Regions from separate parts of the Homo sapiens genome. Here region 2 is reported to be linked to region 1. The links are microRNA targets in miRTarBase. Many come from high-throughput screens and were not tested one by one. Region 1 holds a microRNA gene; the other region holds the end of a gene's coding sequence.
The links. The annotated mature microRNA hsa-miR-6877-3p reads CAGCCUCUGCCCUUGGCCUCC and lies in region 1 at 2,035-2,055, opposite strand. An mRNA with a match to its seed (bases 2 to 7 or 8) in the 3' UTR can be bound and repressed. Matches are read on the target gene's strand: a 7mer-m8 pairs with bases 2 to 8, a 7mer-A1 pairs with bases 2 to 7 and ends in A, and an 8mer does both.

Region 1 (3,000 bases):
TTCTGCATTCAAAAGAGTCTCAGCAACGGGGGCAAAAGGTTTTTTTATTCTTTCCAAATGAAAAGATTCTTACTACAAAAGAGAATGCTAGAAACTGAAAGATAAAGAGAGAGAAAGGCAGGAAGCAAAGCTTTCAGGAATTTTTACCGTGTTTCATTCCACAACGGATTCGGAAATCGAGGACTTGATAAATCTTGGCATCTGGGTTTTTTCGGGGGTCATACCCAAATCGAATCCATAGGCTGCGCCAGGGGCCTGTTATCTGGGACAGAAAAGTGGGGAAAATGTGAGGTGAGGTGAAGGCCCAGGTCCCTGGACGGGCCAGAGCCTACAGTGAGGCAGCAGAAGAGCTCAGGAGCTGGGGACAGGGCTCTGGATGCCCAGCCCTGCTCTGCCACATGCAGGCCCTGTCACCTTGGTGAGGGCACGTGGCCTTTCCAAACCTTGGTCTTCCTGTCAGATGGAGGGAAAAGGAGCACCCTTTCCTGTGGGTTTTTGTTTTTTGGGGGAGAGGGTCTCACTCTGTTGCCCAGGCTGAGTGCAGTGGCAAAATCACGGTTCACTGCAGCCTCAACCTCCTGGGCTCAAGTGATCCTCCTACCTCAGCCTCCCAAGTAGCTGGAACTACAGGCACGAGCCACCACACCCAGCTAATTTTTAATTTTTTTGTAGAGATGGGGTCTCATTATGTTGCCTAGGCTCGTCTCAAACTCCTGGATGCAAGCGATTCTCCCGCTTCAGCCTCCCGAAGTACCGGGATTCTAGGAGTGAGCCATCATGCCTGGCCTCCCATGGTTTTTCAGAGGATTAAATGAGATAGCGCCCGTGGAGCCTTTACCATGGTTCCTGGCACATATTAAGTGCCCAATGTTACTACTGGCCTAATCGATGAGACATCTTCTGTCCCTAAACGGAGCTTTTGAATGGCTTATGTCTAAAAAGCCAATGCCAGCCAGCCGCAGTGGCTCTCGCCTATAATCCCAGCATTTTGGGAGACCGAGACAGGCAGATCACTTGAGGTTAGGAGTTCGAGACCAGCCTGACCAACATGGCGAAACCCCATCTCTACTAAAAATGCAAAAAAAGAAAATTAGCTGGGCATGGTGGCGTGCGCCTGTACTCCCAGCTACTTAGGAGGCTGAGGCAGGAGAATCACTTGAATCCCAGAGGCGGAGGTTGCAGTGAGCAGAGATCACACCACTGCACTCCAGCCTGGGAGACAGAGTGAGACTCCATCTCAAAATAAATAAAATAAATAAAATAAAATAAAATGCCAACGCCAAGCAGCACAGGTCGCTCTCCTGAGCCGGAAGTCCAACAAGGCAGAAGAAATGAGTCTTTCTTGTGTCCTACTGCCTGTTGCAGACCCTCACAGTCATGTCTTACGCTGGCCTCCCCTAATGCTCTGTGAGGCCTGGCAGCGGGGAGGATCCCTTTCCAACCAGCACCTTTGGAACCTCAGTAATGACATGTGTCTTTACATGCTTGTGGATCAAAGGTGGATCTGCCTCCCACTGAACCCCACTCAACACAGGTAGAGGACGACATGGGGCCGCTGTGGTCAGGGGCTGGGTTCTGCAGCCCAACAGGCTGTGGAGGGCGCCCTGGACTCAGGGAGCTGAAACTTTTCTAGCTGGCTTTAATAAGCTGTCTTAGGGATGCTAGGATCGGGGGGCCAGGACAGGGGGGAAGGAAGGATGGGGGTGCCAGGACGGGGGAGGTGCTAGGTTGGGGGCAGGGCAGGAAGGATGAGGGCCAGGCCAGGGGTGGGTAGGAAGGATGGGCCAGGATGGGGGTGGGGCAGGAAGGATGGGGAGCCAGGATAGGGGGTTGGCTGCTCTTACTGTGGCTCTAAGACATCACAGCAGGGACCAGGGACCACATGGGTGGAAACCAAGGCAGGTGGGTGGGCAGCTGACACTTACCATGTAATAGGCTATGAAGGGAAGCAAGACCTTGAGCTTGTCTGGGTGGACGCTGATGTTGGCCTTGACAGCATTTCGGGACCAGATGGGACGGATGTCAAACAGCTGGGGAGGCCAAGGGCAGAGGCTGAGATGAGCACCAGCAGCTTCCACCCTTCGGCCCTGAACTCCCAACATGTTCTGGGCCCCAGCGGCCCCTCCAGAGAGGAGCTGGTAGAGGACAGGGGCTGGACACACAGGGCGTGGCCCTAGGACCTCCTGCTCTCACTAATTCATCCCTTCCCTCAGAAGCCTGGGCTGCATGCCCAGCCTGTGCCAAGTGCAGTTGTGGGGCTGGGTCTCTCAAACGATAAGAGACATGGTCGCTGTCCTCATAGAGCCCACAGCGCGGTGGGGAGTACGGCTCAGGGGGCACATGCTAGAGTCCCAGGGTCCCCATGCTGCCCCAATCTACAGAACAGGTGCCTGAGGTGGGACATCGTCAGGGCTGAAGGGGACAGCCTGGCCCGGGGAGGACTGCAAAGGTCAGTGTGGCCGGAGTGTAGAGGGCCAGGGGGCTGGGGCAGCGGGCCTCACGAGCCAATTCAGGTCAGGAATGTGGGCTGTGCCTGGTGGGCAATAAGGAGCCACTGACAGTGTGCCCCAGTGACTGCTGGAAATCAACAAGACATCCACGTGGTCTCCCACAGGCACACTGCGTAAGGGAAGCGCCGGGCTCCAGGTGGCAGTGGCCTGTGAACCTGATGCTCATGCCAGTGGGGACGCAGGACTCCACGGCACCCGCAAGCCCGGGGAAGGAGGGCTGCCTGGCAGCACGGTTCCAGTTCTAACGGTAAGAAAGTGCTGGGCCTGGCACACTAGGTGCCCCACTGGCTTGGCTGCAATGAGTGAATGGAAGAATAAGAGCTCAGTGGATCCCAGAGCTCCACGTTTATGTCACATCTGAACAACGCACGCATATTTTTCTTAAGAACTCTAAGAAGCATTTTCAACCTTGGGAATGTAGAACTTATACCGACACAGCCTTTAGACATGGCATCTGAAGGTGAGAAGTTCCCATGCACTAAGGAATGGG
Region 2 (3,000 bases), not on the chromosome of region 1:
AGAAGCCCTGCTCCCATTTTTCCACCCACCCATTCCCCCATAAAACAGCTTATTGTCTCCAAGACAATAGACATTTAAAATGTGATGCGGGTTTATGATCCAGACCACAATCAGAATTATATCTTGGGTCATTTATGTGCCGTCTGTTCTTGATTCTCTATGCTCTAAATCGGTGTTTTTCAAACTGTGGTTGCAGTCCTTTGGTGGATTATGGCCAGCATTTTTTAAATAGGTAGAATAGAATAAAGTAAAATAGAAAATAGCAGAGTACATTGCTCTCAGTGTAGGTAAGTATTGTTTTGTTAGTCATATGTGCATGTGTGTACTGAGTGCCATGTAAAATGTATTCCTGCTGTGGTAAGCTGTGGTCGAGGAGTTTGAAAGCCATTGCTTTCAAATTCCTCTCAATTATACTGACCCTAGTCAGATGGGTCAGCCTGGGCAAGGGCCCACATTTACATTTCCTTTCTGTAAGGGACAATGGGCAATTATCACTCAGCTCTTGATAGGCAGGGAGGAAGACCAGAGAAGAACATCGACATAGAGAAACAAGAGTTTATTCCAATGGAGAAGCAGCTGAGCCGAGGGCTTGCCATTGGGCCTGGGGTCTGCAGTTACAGAAGCAGCAGGAGGCAGACAAGGAAAGGCACAGCACAAGACCCAGGAAAGTGGACCTTGTGGAGCAAGGCAGTGAGGGCGAGGAAAGCTTTTAGGATTTTGAGACCAGGTGCTATGGCACAAGTGATAAGTGAGCCCTCTCCTTTCCTTCTGAGGGCAGGGGAGGCAGCTGAGAAAGGGCAGGGGAGGCAGCTGAGAAAGGGCAGGCCAGGTGTCACAGGCAGCTCCTTGCATCCCGGTTCTTCTCTAACCCAGTCAACCCCAGGCTCAAGACTGTTTCAGCCCAACGGTCCCAGTTCCCTTGTTCAGGTTAGCTGTACCACTGTCTTTCTCTGCTCCTTTTTTGTTTGTTTTTGGAGACAGGGTCTCACTCCTTCACCCAGGCTGGAGTCCGATGGCACGAACTTGGCTCACTACAACCCCCATCTCCCAGGTTCAAGCAACTCCTATGCCTCAGCCTTCCAAGTAGCTGGGATTACAGGTGTTCACCACCATACCTGGCTAATTTTTGTATTTTTTAGTAGAGATGGGGTTTTGCCATATTACCCAGGCTGGTCTCAAACTCCTGACCTCAAGTGATCCACCCACCTCAGCCTCCCAAAGTGCTGGGATTACAGGCATGAGCCATTGCGCCTGGCCTCTTTCTTTACTCCTAATCCATGATTTGAGAGACTCAAACCAGCCAGAAAGACTCTCAGGGATCTGGCGTCTTAAGGTTCGGGTTCTTCTCTTCACAGTGAATTCAAAAAAGCCTCTGTCTCCTGACAGACCCCAAACTTTAAAAAAAAAAAAAAAGCCTCTGTCTTTTTGCTTTGGCAAAGCCTGGCAGGGGGTTAGAAAGCCACTGATTCCAGGACAATACAAGCTTAAGCTCAAGAGGCCAGAGATGGGGATAGGAAGAAGGCCTAATGAGGTGGATAGTTCTAGAAATCAGAAAGAATGCTGAATAGGTGAAGTCTGAGTGGTGACAACCTCACTGTCCTGTCTGCCTCACAGGAGCAGTTCTCTACAAGGCTCTTCCACACACACACACGCAAGGCTCAGGGGCTCGGTGGGTACAAAAAGCCAGTGGAAACGGATAAATACCTATAGCGTTAATAGCAGAAGTATGTCCAAGGTTTTGCACAGGGTAATCAAACTAACTGGCTTCAGACATTTGCAGCCACAGGAAAAAATAGCTCTCAGCCTTATGAGATGGACATTCCTATACTAACTCCCGCTCTTTGTTGTATTGAATTCTGGCTGTTTCTTCCCCCACTCAACTGTGAGCAGATGTGCACAGACTCCGAGAGGCAGACACCAGGAGGTCCAGGGACATAGGTTGGTGAGGCATGGCGGTCTAGTTGTGGGAGATAATGAGGCCCAGAAGGTGTGGTGAGAGACATGGTGGTGTGGGAAGTTGAGTTGTGTTTGGGGTGGTATTGGGTGATGGACAAGGACAGCAGTCAGCAGAGCCTTCGACCCAGCCCAAGCAGGCACCCCATTGTGCTTAGGTTCCTATCTGTGGTCTTGATTTGGCTTTGCTTTTCTTGGGAGGAAGATGAATCAGAATCCTGGCATCGTGGGCCCTCTAGTGAAAACTCGTCCTGGGGAGTAGGACAGCTGCTGAGAAGCAGAGAGGAATGCGGCCAGCTGGGGAAAATGGGACAGCAGGGGTCAGGGAGGTGATTGGAAGGGCAGACACCATAGTCCCCAGCTACCTGGCTTCAAGAGCCCCCGTTCCCCACACGCCTCTTCTTCTAAGGCAAGGTCTTTCCCTCTGGGGACTGACTGAGACAGCAGTCACTGGCCAGGCTCTTGGTACAAAGGCAGGAAGGGTAGCTCTGAGAACGGGGCTTTCAGCCGCAGCACTCCGTGCTCCAGGTCGATGCAGCACTGCGGGGTGTAGAGCAGTCATGCCAGGTCACCTCAGCCCGCCACCTGCCTCCCGGCCTGCTCCTTTTGTTCCCCCTCCCACTTCCCACAGCTTCCACCTGCCTTTTGCTCTTCCCCCATCCCCATTTCCCTAGACTCCTGTTGAAGGGGGTGACCCAGTTCTCTTGATTTTTCACTTGGTGGTAAGTAAGGAACCTCTAAGGAAGCAAAGGGACAGTTGCCCATCTCTAAGTCACTCTCATCAGAACCTGGTCCAGGTTCCACACCTGTGCCTTCTACTACTTTTTCCCAGTGCTTTGGGTCAGGCCCTGAGTGGGTGCCTTACCTTGAGAGAAAGCAGAGTCTGCAGGCCCAGGCAGAATTCAGGACTCTCAGCATCTATAGGAACAATTTGAAAACAGAAGAGGCTGAGGGTTCCCAGTGGTCACTGCTGCCCTCCTCTTAGCCGTTGCTCCTTCTCTGCCCACCCCATCCCCAGATCCGAGGACACTGGCACAGAGATGGGGG

Region 2: miRTarBase lists NRIP2 as a target of hsa-miR-6877-3p. Seed matches in the 3' UTR shown: 7mer-m8 at 1,413-1,419 and 7mer-m8 at 1,368-1,374.

Annotation. Positions count from the first base shown.
Region 1 is chr9:133,051,090-133,054,089 of GRCh38, reverse strand. It overlaps MIR6877 (microRNA 6877), which reads right to left and starts at 2,094; the gene lies at 2,031-2,094. GTF3C5 (general transcription factor IIIC subunit 5) reads right to left here. Exons shown (of 11, transcript NM_012087.4): 5 at 1,926-2,030; 6 at 148-262.
Region 2 is chr12:2,824,807-2,827,806 of GRCh38, forward strand. It overlaps NRIP2 (nuclear receptor interacting protein 2), which reads right to left. Exons shown (of 6, transcript NM_031474.3): 5 at 2,819-2,871; 6 at 542-2,493. The coding sequence ends at 2,401. ITFG2 (integrin alpha FG-GAP repeat containing 2) reads left to right here. Exons shown (of 12, transcript NM_018463.4): 12 at 1-270. Among named protein-coding and RNA genes, the nearest start is that of NRIP2, 8.7 kb to the right of the region's middle. RefSeq lists a silencer at 317-611.